Linked DNA regions of Homo sapiens: region 1 is linked to region 2. Evidence: fine-mapped expression QTL. Tissue or cell type: whole blood. Region 2 holds a variant in brackets; the other region holds the start of a gene. All regions are shown on one strand. Distances are between the middles of the regions. Region 1 holds the start of LRRC70 (leucine rich repeat containing 70). Region 2 has its middle 94 kb from the start of LRRC70.

Region 1 (8,475 bases), 93 kb after region 2:
TAAGAACCTGTAGTAAATGGTAGAGAAATACAGAAATCTTAAGAAAGGTGAGCTTCCTTAGCTATATTAATTTAGAATATCATTTAGTTTTAACTTAGGGCTGCTCAAAATGTGAAACAATGAAATACAGAAATTGTACCCAAGAAAATTATTATGCCTGTAACACTTCAATTATACCTTAAATAAGTTTTTTAACTGTACAACTACCAAACAACGGTGAAATATGAGCTGGCTAACATTTTTCAAGGGGGTAGCTACTTACTCCAGCTCTCTTTTGATTAGTAAAAAAAGAAAAATTTTTTAAAAGGAAATAGCTGACAAAGACTGAAATGAACATTTAATGAATACCACTGTATAGAACTATGGCTCCATATATAAATTGATATTAATATAATTGGTTTTCTAGTTGAGTCTAAATCAATTAGAAGCTATACTTTCAAAAAGCAAAAATTTTGATAGATTTTCTGAACTGCCTTTTTTGAATTTAGGAATTTTAAGATAAAAATACTTTGTTATATAAATTTTCCTGAACTTCACATAGCCAGCTGTGTTGCTTGTGAACATCTTTAAGAGGGTACGGTTTAGGTGGTAAGGAAGGGAGGCATGGAGAAGTTTTCAGCCTACCTTATGTATTTCTGCACTGTTTAAATTTTTTCCCAATGAACAAGTACTTTTAGTAATTAAAGAAAAAACATAATTGGATTTGTAGGAGTTGGGAGGATACAACAAAGAAAAAAATACATTATTAAAAATGTCTCTCAAGGTGAACAAAAAGATTGCTCTTCCATAACAAAACAAATTACTTAGGAAAAATAATGTTTATTTAAATATATTCACATTTTCTGCTGAAATTATAATCCCCAAAAAGGCATTCAGCTAAGCAGGGAAAAGCAAACCATTGTTTGAAAACCCTTTGGGGTTGGTGGGGCTTTATTTATGCAATTTCTAATATATCTTAAAATTACTTTTCAGCTCCTTTCTGATTTTCTCTCAAATATATTAAGAAAAAATTTTAAATACATATTTGTGGTTCAGGTCACTATTAACTAACCAACAAGCATAGGCACTTACTATAATCCCTAATATTCTGCAGTACAAATATTCTGCAAGTACAAATTTTTGCTAATAAAGAAAACCATTATATTACTTCTATGACTTCAATTACCATCTATATTAAAGATTCTTAATCAAGGGCACTAATATCTCCTAGGGACTCTCTCAACTTCTACAAGGTCTTATTCTTCCCCACTTACCTATCTCCCAAAACCACAGCTTAAATGGTTATTGTTACTGTAAAGGGTGCATCATACATTTCCAGTGTACTGGACAGATGAAAGTTTAAGAAATATTGGCCTTTACCATAAGACCTCGCTTCTGAATTTCTGCATGATATATATTTCCATGTGGAGATCTAATAAGAACCTCAGATTCAATCTGTCTAAAACTGACTCATTATTTTGCCCCACCCCTTTTCTTTCCCTAGCTTAGTGAATACAGCACAAAACTGCCTAAGCCAAAAACCTAACATCTTTGACTTCTCCCTCCCCTGCCACGCCTCAACCAATCACCAAGGCAGTTCATTTTACTTTCAAAGTACCTCTGGATCCATCCATCCTTTTTGCCAGTATCCTGGCCCAGGCCTCTAGCATCTTTCCCCTGGATTAGCAATTCAGATTCCTACTCACCTAATTCTGGCTCCGGTTTTATTGTTCCTTCCAGAAAGAGGGAAATTTCTAAAGGGTAAATCTAATCATTTCACTCTACTGCTTAAAAATCCTTCAATGGCTCTCTGTTGCCCTCAAGATAAAGCATGTAACTATAAAGCTTTCATCACCTGATCTCTCTTTCGGGCTTTAAATCGCACACCATCATTCACGACACCAGCTGTACTGAATTTTAGTTCCTGAAAAGCAGCAGGTTTTCTTCTGTTAACCCCTCTGACACGATGTTACTCAGCTCTCTTCACTGGGCTAATTTCTATTTATTCTTCGTGATCCAGTTTTGATGTCACTTTCTTCATAAAGCCATCTCTCACCTCCACAAATGTTATACTCAACAGCATCTCCAAGTACAGTACTTATCATCGCACTGTGCAGTAACCATATATCTCCTCCTCTAAATTTCAAGCTCTACCTAGAATAAGAACCACGTCTATTTTTTTCATATCACAATCCTAGAACCAAAGCAGCAATATAGTATAAAACTGAAAGCATGAACTCTAGTCAGAGAGGCCCAAAAAGTGTTACAAGCTGTGAGAATTTGGCATAGTTACTTAAACTTTAAGTTTCCTCACCTGTAAAGTATAAATAGTGCCACCTTTCAAGACTATTCACAGATTAAATGTGAAATGTGAAATATTTGGCACAGTGCTTGATACACAGAAATGTTAGCTATTATTACTTAATACAGTATATATCAAAGAAAATATTTGCTAAATGAATACACTGTTCACAAATTATTAAAAACATATTTTAATAATGCTAACCTCATATAATTCATTATATTTCCAACTAAAGTATATAATTATATAAGGAGGTTTCAGTTTAAATCATGTCCATGGCACTGAAGTTTCTTATAGACAATATTTAGTTGAGTTATAAAGCAGAATGTTCAAAAAGAATGACCTGTGCCTCATTTTCAGGAACAATTTGTTTATGAAGTCGAATCTGCTCCAAGCCAGGACTTTCTAGAGAATTTGGGGAAGTGTTACAAATTGAGGCAGTTACATTATACCTTGCTGACTGATAAAAGCTGTAGTATTCAAGTCTATTTTCCCTTGAGTTTTCTGATGCCTTTAGTTTTTGTTTAAACTGAACAACTTTGTAGATCAAAAAAATGATTAAAACACAAGCTAAGATGAAAAAAGCTAGCAAAATGTCAAAAGCCTCATTCAACTTCTCAACTTCTTGTGTACAAATTAGAGATGTTTTCCCTGACATTGAAGCAGCATCATTCGGTAGAGCACTGTTTTTTTCCAAGTTCAAGGTAACAGAAGTAGTAAGTTGTATTTGCACAGGTAACACTGCTGTAGTCTCTAATGGATTACCAAAGGCATTCTCTTGAAAAAATCTACCAGCAGGTGAAGTAGGAATTCGTTCCCAGAAAGTAATGTTCTCAGTCTCAGTATTTTCCAGAGGACTGCCATTTGTGGTTACTTTATGCCAGGCCATCATTAGCGCAGTAGTCTTGTGATGAATATGAGGAGATTTTACAACAGCCCAAGCTCTGGATACATTTATTGAAGATGTAACACAATTTGTAATGTTAATATAACGTAATGCTCTGCCACGCATGGATGGGGGATTCTGACAATAGATGTTTAGAGTAATGGCTGAAGATGCTAGCCAGTCTCGAAGGCCCAAAAGTTTGCAGTTACATTCCCAAGGATTAGAATTTGCCTGAAGATGAATCAATGAAGACAACGGCTTAAGGACCCTTGGATGCAAGGCTGTAAGATTATTAAATGACAGATTAAGGATCTTCAAAGATGCTCCCATATTTTCAAATGTATCATTATCAATGCTAATTATTCTGTTTCTATCTAACTTAAGGTAAATTAAATTCTTTAACAAACTGAATGTGTCAGAATTTAAATTCTCTAAATCATTATGACTTAAGATCAAATGTTTAAGATTATTAATTCCACTAAACCCATCCCTAGTAACATTCCTAATTCTTGAATTTTTCAGGAGGAGGTATTCCAGATTGGCAAGTCCTTTAAATGCAAAGGGCTGTATTGCTTCAATAGGATTATGAGACAAAGAAAGTCTTCTAAGACTTTTAAGTACTTCAAAGGCATTTGATGGTACTTTTGTTAAATTATTACTTCCTAAATACAAACAAGCAAGGTTTTCAAGATGTTGAAAGCCTGATTCTGATATCCTCAAAATGTTATTGTTTGATAAATCAAGTATCCGAAGAGCAACCATACCAACAAAGGTACCACTCCCAAGGACAGTGAGGCGATTCCTTTGTAGATTTAAGTACTGAACTGAAACTAGATCATTAAATACTCCTCTCGGAACAAAAGATACCTGATTATACTGTAAATATAAATTACGAAGATTTAAAAGTCCCTTAAATATTCCAGGATCTAAGCGTTTGATGAAATTATTATTTAGAAATAGAAAATATAGATGCCTCAATTGAACAAAGGCTTTTGGATATACATACAGAATGTTAGAATTATCCAAATACAATGCTACAAGAGAATGAAGTCCTGTTAATTCACTTTCATTTATATAAGATATATTATTCCCAGTCAGATACAGAAAAACTGTACTTTCAGGAAAATTCTTAGGAATACTCGAAAGGCCTAAGTTACGGCAGTTAATTTGTCTCCCAGTGCAGAGCTGACAAACAGACGAACATCCAAGTATTTCTTTGTGGAGTAATAATAAAAGATAACAGGTAACAACCAGAAACAGTCGTAGGCAAGGCAGAGAAAACTGTAATCCACACATATCCCTGTTCTTGGATTTTCTGTTCAGATCAGAATTGGCTATAAAAAGAGAAGGTAAAGCTTTAAATCACGAAAACTTCATCAAATGAATTTTTTTTATAATACTATAACTTCTGTATTCTATTTTAATTAGGATCAGCCAATAATACTATCATAAATCATACCATGGTAATAGCAAAAAATAATGAGTATGGAATACGTTCTAGAATTATTAACATGATCAGGCCATTAACCCACTATTTGACAAAATAGTTCAGATTAATGAAACATTTGCTAAGTTAACTTAAAAATTACAATTGATTACAACACAGGTGACAAATGATGTAGGAATGAGAATCTTTGAATTTAATATGTCCCTTTAACAACATAAAGTCTAATATCAAATAACATTATAATTTATGAAAATACAAATTCACTACAGAACAATTAAATTCTAAATTACAGTTTTTCACAGAACTATTTTTCATGTCAGCTAGAAGTTCATATTTAAGTAAATAATCTTACCAAGAAAAGGAAATTCGTATTATTAACACTCAGCTGATTCAGTAAAGGTTTTCTTTTTAAATCTGAAGAACGACATTTCTTAACTCCAGTTTGTTCTGTGGCACTGCTGACCTCCACCCCACCACTTTTTTTTTTTTTTTTTTAAGTCACCGTTTGCTCAGGAAACACCACTCTTCACATTGGTTCCTTTACAGTCAATGTGTAAAACAGAGGTTGCCATGGATACAGGAAGCTAAGAGACAGGAAGTAATTTTATCTGTGTTTCAAAAGTATTGCTGAACGGAAATCTCAGGAACTTATTTTTTCAGAATGCAGTTAGAGTTTTCCTAATATACACATTGAAATATCTCCTATAATATAAAAATAATAGTTTTTAAAGGATACTTGAAAACATTAGTTATTCAGAACCCAAATATCAATCAACAGACTCTAGCTATCAAACAACATAGCTACTGAATGGAAAAGGCTAGTTCAAATAAGATGTATATCGAGTAATACAATTTTTTGTAAACTTTTTAATGAATAAAATATTTATGTTGTGTTAAATACGCATTGAAGACTTAAACTTTATGCTTTATTCCTTTAATAAAAATAGGGGAAAAAATTTAGAATGAACATAAATGTTGTTATATTATCCTCCAGTGCTCTTTTTAAAATTTTCAAAATATTTTTGGTTGCAAAAAATACTGAGTACTACTTAATACGTGAGGTACTAATTGGTAGTAAGCTACTAATTAGTAGTAACGCACTAATTGGTTGTGTTGGGTTATAAGATGTTAAGAAGCTGCATACCAACTTACTGACATAGGTTATCTTTGCAAGAAAAATTGGGGAGAGTAAAAGAGGCGATGTTTCGCCCTATATATATCTGTATCAGTTTGAATCTTTTAGAACAAAAATGGAGAATTTTTTAACGTCATTTTTCAAGAATTTAAAGAATCGGATATAAATTGTTTATATTATATATTGTTCAGTCATTAACTTTCTTTCATTAACTTTAAGCTAGTTGCTTAAGCTTTCTAATTCTGACTTTTATTAATATTACTAATAGCCTGATAATATTCCTAAAATATCAAGTTATATAATTGTATACAACTCTCCTTTGATATTAAAGCAGTTTCATTTCACATCAACAATTACTTTAGAAATAATATGAATTATGTCCATATTAGAAAGCTGAAATAATACCTAGCATTATCTTTCTATGACTAAAAATTCAGCAATGCATACTGGATAGCAGATCGTTATCAAAATGACTTATGATTCTTACACCTATCCATTATGGCTGGTTACTGTTATTGCTATTTTATGCATTAAAAATGGAAAACAAAACAAGTGACAGAAATGATATGAATTTGAGGTAGGGGCTATGTTTCTCAGGTCCATTTTGTTTAGTACTTCCAATAATATACAAGGTGATATGAAGCTTGTCCCATGGATTTTTCAATTTCTTGGGAAAAATTCAGAGAAAGGGTCCTTTGAAATAAAAATAAAATTAAAGAGAAAAAACCCACAAAGTAATATAACCAGAGTATGAATTAATTTTGTTCTTTATGCCAAAAATATCCAAAGCAGTAAAGAACACTTATTAGGATGCAAAGGTAAAATTTTTAGGAAACTGTATTAAGGAAAAATGACAAAATAAAATCTCACTTCTCACATTCTAAAAACTGAAGGAAACTAAACTGACTTCAACAAAACAAGCAAATATAAATAGTACACTGTAACTCTCAGGTTGAATGGTTTAAAAAAAAATTCCTATCTCCAGCAAAACAAAGTTTAGTCTTTCTGTTCATTTAGGAGTTGCTGTTCTTAGAGACAACTGATCAACAATGATTCCTCATTATCCTTTTCTGATTACTAATGTTCATTACAACTATTACTGAACACTACGCTCAACCTCTTAAATTAGTCTTCTATTTCTTTCCAGGAAATTGACTCATTGAGCTGTTTTCCTCTCATTCTTGTTGCTGAACCTTCTTTTACACTGCCTTTGTCTTCAAATCATCTCATGCTTCTGGTATTAATACACAACTATTCTCTTTTCCATTCAGATTCTCCCCATACAAAAACAAGAATGTATAAATAACAGAGCAATTGTTCCATTAGCTCTTTTAAATATACATCATCTGTATGGATGCATGTATTCTTTTGAGACACAGTCTTGCTCTGTCGGCTGGGTTGGAGTGCAACAATGTGAGTACAGCTCACCACAGCATCGACCTCCCAGTCTCAAGTGATCCTCTTCCCTCAGCCTCTTGAGTAGCTAGGACTGCAGGTGCATGCCACCATGCTTTTTCTTATTTTTGTAAAGACGGAGTCTTGCCATTCTGCTCAGGCTGGTCTTGAACTAGTAGGTTCAAGTAATCCTCCCACCTTGGCCTCCCAAAGTGCTGGGATTACAGGTGTGAGCCACTGCGTCCAGCCTATATGTATTTAGATATATACCATCTATATATAAACCAATCAAGATTGGTTTACATATAAAGAATGGCTTATAATAACAGCAGTTACTGATTTTATGGACCTTAAAAGTCACTGATGGAACTAAAATCAAGAGAATGAAAATGTGAAATGGGATTTGCAATTAAAAATAATCCAGCTCTTCCTGCCATCATGAAGCCTGTCGAGGCCTGCTTGGAACATGACTTCTAAAAGGCAAGTATTTCTGGAAGGCTGTCATCCAAGGCCATTTTTGCGCTATAAGCAGGGTCTCTGGAACCAAAGGGAGCACACAAATCTTCTTAAAACTGAAGGTGTTTATGCCCAAGATGAAACTGAATTCTATTTGGGCAATAAATGTGCTTACGCACACAAAGCAAAGAACAACAAGTGACTCCTGGCAGCAAACCAAACAAAATCAGAGTATTCTAGAGAAAGGTAACTTGGGCCCAAGGAAACATTGGCATGGTTTTTGCCAAATTCCAAAGCGATCCTTCTGCTAAGGCCATTGGACATAGATGCTGTAACCCCTTAAAGATTTAAACTAATGAAAGGTAAATAAAGTGGACTTGTGTTCCTGGAAAAAAAAATTTAGCAAACAATTTGAGAATTCTTTTGCTCAATGTAGGAGATAAATTTTAATGAGGGGCAGTATATCTCAATATAGACCTCTTATCAGTTGCAAGAAAAAAAAATAACAACATAGTAACTATACACAGTGGGGAAATCAGATAACACCTTGACCAGCATTAACATCATCAGTGAGAAACAGATGAGCACCATGTGACTTTGCCTGTGATATTCCAAGAGGGACACATCACTTATGCAATATTCTAACGAGAGATGCATACATAAATCTAACCATAAGGAAATATCAAACCACAAATGAGGAACACTCTATTCTGCTGGGGGAGGTGGGGAGAGGATGGATGGGAGACAAAAACAGAGAGGCAATTGGAAAGATGGAGAGAGATTATAAGGAGTGGATTATTTAAAAATGTTATAAGAGAAAAAGAAAAGACTGAGGAAATGACATGACAGAGTAAAAGAGACTACAAAAACACAAG
Region 2 (8,475 bases):
CAATCTAGCAAGGCAGGCCAACATTCAGATTCAGGAAATACAGAGAACGCCACAAAGATACTCCTCGAGAAGAGCAACTCCAAGACACATAATTGTCAGATTCACCAAAGTTGAAATGAAGGAAAAAATGTTAAGGGTAGCCAGAGAGAAAGGTTGGGTTACCCATAAAGGGAAGCCCATTAGACTAACAGCTGATCTCTCTGCAGAAACTCTACAAGCCAGAAGACAGTGGGGGCCAATATTCAACATTCTTAAAGAAAAGAATTTTCAATACAGAATTTCATACCCAGCCAAACTAAGCTTCATAAGTGAAGGAGAAATAAAATACTTTACAGACAAGCAAATGCTGAGAGATTTTGTCACCACCAGGCCTGCCCTAAAAAAGCTCTGAAAGGAAGCACTAAACATGGAAAAAAACAACCAGCACCAGCCACTGCAAAAACATGCCAAATTGTAAAGACCATCAAGGCTAGGAAGAAACTGCATCAACTAATGAGCAAAATAACCAGCTAACATCATCATGACAGGTTCAAATTCACACATAACAATATTAACCTTAAATGTAAATGGGCTAAATGCTCCAATTAAAAGGCACAGACTGGCAAATTGGATAAAGAGTCAAGACCCATCAGTGTGCTGTATTCAGGAAACCCATCTCATGTGCAGACACACATAGACTCAAAATAAAGGGATGGAGGAAGATCTACCAAGCAAATGGAAAACAAAAAAAGTAAGGGTTGCAATCCTAGTCTCTGAAAAAACAGACTTTAAACCAACAAAGATCAAAAGAGACAAAGAAGGCCATTATGTAATGGTAAAGGGATCAATTCAACAAGAAGAACTAACTATTCTAAATATACATGTACCCAATACAGGAGCACCCAGATTCATAAAGCAAGTCCCTAGTGACCTACAAAGAGACTTAGACTCCCACACAATAATAATGGGAGACTTTAACACCCTACTGTCAACATGAGACACATCAACGAGACAGAAAGTTAACAAGAATATACAGGAATTGAACTCAGCTCTGCACCAAGTGGACCTAATAGACATCTACAGAACTCTCCACCCCAAATCAACAGAATATAAATTCTTTTCAGCACCACACCACACCTATTCAAAAGTTGACCACATAATTGGAAGTAAAGCACTCCTTAGCAAATGTAAAATAACAGAAATTATAACAAACTGTCTCTCAGACCACAGTGCAATCAAACTAGAACTCGGGATTAAGAAACTCACTGGAAACCACTCAACCACGTGGAAACTGAACAACCTGCACCTGAATGACTACTGGGTACATAACGAAATGAAGGAGGAAATAAAAACGTTCTTTGAAGCCAACAAGAACAAAGACACAACATACCAGAATCTCTGGGACACATTCAAAGCAGTGTGTAGATGGAAATTTATAGCACTAAATGCCCACAAGAGAAAGCAGGAAAGATCTAAAGTGGACATCCTAACATCACAATTAAAAGAACTAGAGAAGCAAGAGCTAACACATTCAGAAGCTAGCAGAAGGCAAGAAATAACTAAGATCAGAGCAGAACTGAAGGAAATACAGACACAAAAAACCCTTCAAAAAATCAATGAATCCAGGAGCTGGTTTTTTGAAATGATCAACAAAATTGATAGACTGCTAGCAAGACTAATAAAGAAGAAAAGAGAGAAGAATCAAATAGACGCAATAAAAAATGACAAAGGGGATTTCACCACCGATCCCACAGAAATACAAACTACCATCAGAATACTACAAACACCTCTACGCAAATAAACTAGAAAATCTAGAAGAAATGGATAAATTCCTCGACACACACACTCTCCCAAGACTAAACCAGGAAGAAGTTGAATCTCTGAATAGACCAATAACAGGCTCTGAAATTGAGGCAATAATTAATAGCTTACCAACCAAAAAAAGTCCAGGACCAGATGGATTCACAGCCAAATTCTACCAGAGGTACAGGGAGGAGCTGGTACCATTCCTTCTGAAACTATTCCAATCAATAGTAAAAGAGGGAATCCTCCCTAACTCATTTTATGAGGCCAGCATCATCCTGATACCAAAGCCAGGCAGAGACACAACCAAAAAAGAGAATTTTAGACCAATATCCTTGATGAACATTGATGCAAAAATCCTCAATAAAATACTGGCAAACTGAATCCAGCAACACATCAAAAACCTTATCCACCATGATCAAGTGGGCTTCATCCCTGGGATGCAAGGCTGGTTCAACGTATGAAAATCAATAAACGTAATCCAGCATATAAACAGAACCAAAGACAAAAACCACATCATTATCTCAATAGATGCAGAAAAGGCCTTTGACAAAATTCAACAACCCTTCATGCTAAAAACTCTCAATAAATTAGGTATTGATGGGACGTATCTCAAAATAATAAGAACTATCTATGACAAACCCACAGCATATAATCATACTGAATGGGCAAAAACTGGAAGCATTCCCTTTGAAAACTGCCACAAGACAGCGATGCCCTCTCTCACCACTCCTATTCAACATAGTGTTGGAAGTTCTGGCCAGGGCAATCAGGCAGGAGAAGGAAATAAAGGGTATTCAATTAGGAAAAGAGGAAGTCAAATTGTCCCTGTTTGCAGATGACATGATTGTATATTTAGAAAACACCATCATCTCAGCCCAAAATCTCCTTAAGCTGATAAGCAACTTCAGCAAAGTCTCAGGATACAAAATCAACGTGCAAAAATCACAAGCATTCTTATACAACAATAACTGACAAACAGAGAGACAAATCATGAGTGAACTCCCATTCACAATTGCTTCAAAGAGAATAAAATACCTAGGAATCCAACTTACAAGGGATGTGAAGGACCTCTTCAAGGAGAACTACAAACCACTGCTCAAGGAAATAAAAGAGGATACAAACAAATGGAAGAACATTCCATACTCATGGGTAGGAAGAATCAATATCGTGAAAATGGCCATACTGCCCAAGGTAATTTATAGATTCAATGCCATCCCCATCAAGCTACCAATGACTTTCTTCACAGAATTGGAAAAAACTACTTTAAAGTTCCTATGGAACCGAAAAACAGCCCTCATCGCCAAGTCAATCCTAAGCCAAAAGAACAAAGCTGGAGGCATCACGCTACCTCACTTCAAACTATACTACAAGGCTACAGTAACCAAAACAGCATGGTACTGGTACCAAAACAGAGCTATAAACCAGTGGAACTGAACAGAGCCCTCAGAAATAATGCCGCATATCTACAACTATCTGATCTTTGACAAACCTGACAAAAACAAGCAATGGGGAAAGGATTCCCTATTTAATAAATGGTGCTGGGAGAACTGGCTAGCCATATGTAGAAAGCTGAAACTGGATCCCTTCCTTACACCTTATACAAAAATTAATTCAAGATGGATTAAAGACTTAAATGTTAGACCTAAAACCATAAAAACCCTAGAAGAAAACCTAGGCAATACCATTCAGGACATAGGCATGAGCAAGGACTTCATGTCTAAAACACCAAAAGCAATGGCAACAAAAGCCAAAATTGACAAATGGGATCTAATTAAACTAAAGAGCTTCTGCACAGCAAAAGAAACCACCATCAGAGTGAACAGGCAACCTACAGAATGGGAGAAAATTTTCGCAACCTACTCATCTGACAAAGGGCTAATATCGAGAATCTACAATGAACTCAAACAAATTTACAAGAAAAAAACAAACAACCCCATCAAAAAGTGGGTGAAGGATATGAACAGACACTTCTCAAAAGAAGACATTTATGCAGCCAAAAAACACATGAAAAAATGCTCATCATCACTGGCCATCAGAGAAATGCAAATCAAAACCACAATGAGATACCATCTCACACTAGTTAGAATGACGATCATTAAAAAGTCAGGAAACAACAGGTGCTGGAGAGGATGTGGAGAAATAGGAACACTTTTACACTGTTGGTGGGACTGTAAACTAGTTCAACCATTGCGGAAGTCAGTGTGGCGATTCCTCAGGGATCTCGAACTAGAAATACCATTTGACCCAGCCATCCCATTACTGGGTATATACCCAAAGGATTATAAATCATGCTGCTATAAAGACACATGCACACAGATGTTTATTGTGGCACTATTCACAATAGCAAAGACTTGGAACCAACCCAAATGTCCAACAATGACAGACTGGATTAAGAAAATGTGGCACATATACACCATGGAATACTATGCAGCCATAAAAAAGGATGAGTTCATGTCCTTTGTAGGGACATGGATGAAGCTGGAAACCATCATTCTCAGCAAACTGTCACAAGGACAAAAAACCAGACACCACATGTTCTCACTCATAGGTGGGAATTGAACAATGAGAACACATGGACACAGGAAGGGGAACATCACACACCAGGGCCTGTTGTGGGGTTGGGGGAGCGGGGAGGGATAGCATTAGGAGATATACCTAATGTCAAATGACGAGTTAATGGGTGCAGCACACCAACATGGCACATGTATACACA[T/C]GTAACAAACCTGCACATTGTGCACATGTACCCTAAAACTTAAAGTATAATAAAAAAAAAAGAATCAGAATTTAATCATTCTTTAGTTCATGTAGTGCTTAAAAGAGAGTCCAAGGAACACAGAATTACTATAGTGTCAGGTTATATCCCCAAAGAGGAACTAGTTTTGACAAAAAGAAAAAAAAAGTTATTTGACAACATCCACATATTCCAAGCCCCAGGAAAATAATGACTTGAAAAATTACTCTCTCTATGCCCAAAGTCACTCCTGACTCCAGAGCCTTTTGGGCAAGCGATCAGGTCCTATGGTAGGCAGAAGGGGCATATTATATCTGTTTTAATTATATTCTGAATAAATCTCACTACTCAGGACCACTGGGCATAGATTCAATTTACAGACCATCTACGATTTTCCTAAATGGCAGAATAGGAAGGGGGACTGGTTTCAGATGAATAGACTGAGAGTAACGAAAACTCAAGATGCATCACAGACGCTCTGACTAGGAGCCTGACCTCACTCTAAGCCCATCCCATGAAAGGTGCACAACTCTCTCAACCAGAGCTCCTTGATTGTTATGGGAAACCCAACTGACCAATGGCTTGTGTGGTCAAACCCTAAACATGAAAGTTCTAGGCATGGTGTTCTGAGGACAGCTAGGTAAGAACCAGTCTGGCCTCAGTAATCTAAGAGTTCATTTGGGTGTGAGTGGGATCCACTCCCTGGATGCCCTTTTGTCTCTTTAGGGGTGGGGAGGATATACAACAACTTCATTACCGTGATTATTAAAACTTGGAAAAGTGGAAGATAAATATGTCTGTCTATGTCTTGTCATAACAATTTAGCAATTACAATATGTATTCTGAAATTAAACATGCATTTAGAAACATTTAGAAGTCTTCAGGGGGTTGAGCTTCTCCCTCCAACACTGCATCACTTGGGATGACATCTCTCTAATTCTATAATATTCAGCCAGCCTGGTAAATGTGGTAAATATTGTGAAAGGATCAACTGTTAGTCCAACTTGGACTAACAGAGCTCTGCAATTACAGAAAGAGAAATAGTTGAAGAGGCTTGGGTTGGCACAGAAGAGAATTAAGCAAAGACAATAATAACTAAAGAGATAATAACTAAAAAGAAAAGAGCACATAATCCAATTCTCACACATTCAGCAAGTACATTCTTTTCTGATGAGGCATCACAATTGGCTCCAGGGCCCTGGTCACCTAACATCATAGACTGATCACCTAGTCACTTGCATTCTCCTTACATTACAAGAAATGCCCAATGTTCCTTCTCCCAGGAACATTAACTGAAATCTCTAACAACTGGTCCAGCACAGAGAGTGGTCAGTAAAGCACAAAGATCGATAAGGTACAGGCATGGACCAGTCCAATCAGCTGCCTTCTCTCACATACCTGGGGACTACACTGGCACCCCTTGTACTGCCTCACACAGTTCAAGCACACTCACTTTTTAAAAGATATGTTTCACTTCACTAAAAAAGGAAATATCAAAAAGAAATAAAATAGGAAACAGCAAAACCATCTTGCAATTTGAGAGGGAAATAATGTCTGGTAAGTTTTCAAACGTTCTGCATGCCCCTCTGGCATATTCAGCTTTGGGGGGACCCGGCTTGGTGACTGAGGCAGTAGGGATCTGGAGAGCACGGAGGATCCTGGTAAGCTGGGGGACAGTGTCAGATCCAATGTCCAAATTCTTTCAGGGCCTCCCAGTCCAGTCTCAATGCCACTTCTGGAAGAAAGCTCCCAAAGCACCCCATCTGTAGCCTTCTTACGGCATTGTTCACATTCTGCTGTTTATTCATGTCTTCTCCTATCAGACTTCGAACTCCAGAAAGGCAGGGCCCACATGGTTAATCCTTGCATCCCTCACAAGGCTGAGGATTGCACCGTACACCTTAAGGAATAAGCGAGCACAGGTGATAGGGCAAGTCGAACCAGGAGAGAAGGAATGAAGGGGAAGCTCAGTCATTAGGGATGTTGGGGGTGGAGGGAGGGAAAGAGTGGGGAGAGTCAAGTTCTGGAGTCAGGAATAGATGTGGACAGACTTGGCTATGTTCAGAGTACTAGTGGATAGGGTTATGACCCTGTCCCTGGAGGAGATGTTCCTGGTTTTCCCTTTGGTGTAATCTGATGACATCTCACCCACATTTTCCCTCCTCATCACCCCTTTTATATCCCTCTTTTCCACTTCCCTTTTCCGCTGTAGGGTACCATGATTATTATCTTATAGGATATACAATTAAATCAATCAGTTAATATGGAATACCTATTATGCAAAGCACTATTATGTAAATTAAAGCTATAGTACTTATAGGTTTTACTAATTTAGTGTAAAATGAAAAAGGGAAATTTTCCAATTTGGGAAATTATAATTCCACATAACACTCAGAAATGATCTGTCATTACTTTAACAACACTTTCTTGGTACAAGCACACTTGTTTGCGAGTGAAAGCTGTTAGATGCTCAGTGTTAGTAAGAGTGGGGTAAAAATGATATACACTGCTGGTGGCATTGTTGATGAAAAATATTCAGGCAATATATCTTTTTGGCTATGAAAATATTCTTACCTCTGACCACATAATTCCAGTTCTGAGTCTATGTAAAAAAGCATATATTATAGCATCACATTCAACAACCCAAAACAGAGACAATTCAAATGTTAGCAATAAGAAAATAACTTAATAGTTTTATGGCTAGTTTGATTATAATGAATTATGCATTCATTAAAAATTGGTGTTTATGGGATATTTGTGGACATATAAAATGTTTATAAATATCATCAGATGAGAAAAGCAGACTTCAAAGTTTTGTGAGTACCGTGAAAACAACTACGTATGCTTTTTTCTTGTAAATTTGTTTGAGTTCATTGTAGATTCTGGATATTGAGAGGATGTGGAGAAATAGGAACACTTTTACACTGTTGGTGGGACTGTAAACTAGTTCAACCATTGTGGAAGTCAGTGTGGCGATTCCTCAGGGATCTCGAACTAGAAATACCATTTGACCCAGCCATCCCATTACTGGGTATATACCCAAATGACTATAAATCATGCTGCTATAAAGACACATGCACACGTATGTTTATTGCGGCATTATTCACAATAGCAAAGACTTGGAACCAACCCAAATGTCCAACAATGATAGACTGGATTAAGAAAATGTGGCACATATACACCATGGAATACTACGCAGCCATAAAAAATGATGAGTTCATGTCCTTTGTAGGGACATGGATGAAATTGGAAATCATCATTCTCAGTAAACTATCGCAAGAACAAAAAAACAAACACCGCATATTCTCACTCATAGGTGGGAATTGAACAATGAGATCACATGGACACAGGAAGGGGAATATCACACTCTGGGGACTGCGGTGGGGTGGGGGGTGGTGGGGAGGGATAGCATTGGGAGATATACCTAATGCTAGATGACGAGTTAGTGGGTGCAGCGCACCAGCATGGCACATGTATACATATGTAACTAACCTGCACAATGTGCACATGTACCCTAAAACTTAAAGTATAATAAAAAAAAAAAAGAAAACAACTATGTAAAAATCTATGTGCATATGGACAAGAACAAAAAGATAACTCTCAGAAAATTAGACGTGTTAAAGTAGTGGATTTTTAAAACTTAATATTATTAAATATAGGAGCACCATTTGGCAACATTCCACAGGAATAGAAGAAAAGAAGTGAGAATGTAAATAAAAGACTGAAGGAGGGAAAGACTTTAGCCTAGGACAAAGTTCACCAGCAATATAGTTCACATTCTCAGAGCTACAATTTATGTTTGACATGGAGTATTTTTTTTTTAATTATACTTTAAGTTTTAGGGTACATGTGCACAATGTGCAGGTTTGTTACATATGCATACATGTGCCATGTTGGTGTGCTGCACCCATTAACTCATCATTTAACATTAGGTATATCTCCTAATGCTATCCCTGACT

What was found. PIP is the estimated chance that this variant, and not a neighbour inherited with it, causes the effect.
Region 1: LRRC70 starts here. The variant in region 2 is the best candidate, but not a certain one, in a credible set for the expression of LRRC70 in whole blood (INTERVAL, PIP 0.51).

The regions. Positions count from the first base shown.
Region 1 is chr5:62,575,427-62,583,901 of GRCh38, reverse strand. LRRC70 (leucine rich repeat containing 70) reads right to left here and starts at 5,083. Exons shown (of 2, transcript NM_181506.5): 1 at 4,967-5,083; 2 at 2,456-4,501. The coding sequence starts at 4,463. The coding sequence ends at 2,595. All of the region lies in intron 27 of IPO11 (importin 11), which reads right to left. IPO11-LRRC70 (IPO11-LRRC70 readthrough) reads right to left here and starts at 5,167. Exons shown (of 4, transcript NR_073584.1): 1 at 4,967-5,167. It also overlaps the pseudogene RPL35AP14.
Region 2 is chr5:62,668,887-62,677,361 of GRCh38, reverse strand. No RefSeq gene overlaps it. Among named protein-coding and RNA genes, the nearest start is that of LRRC70, 94 kb to the right of the region's middle. The variant T/C (reference allele first, on the strand shown) is at 4,499.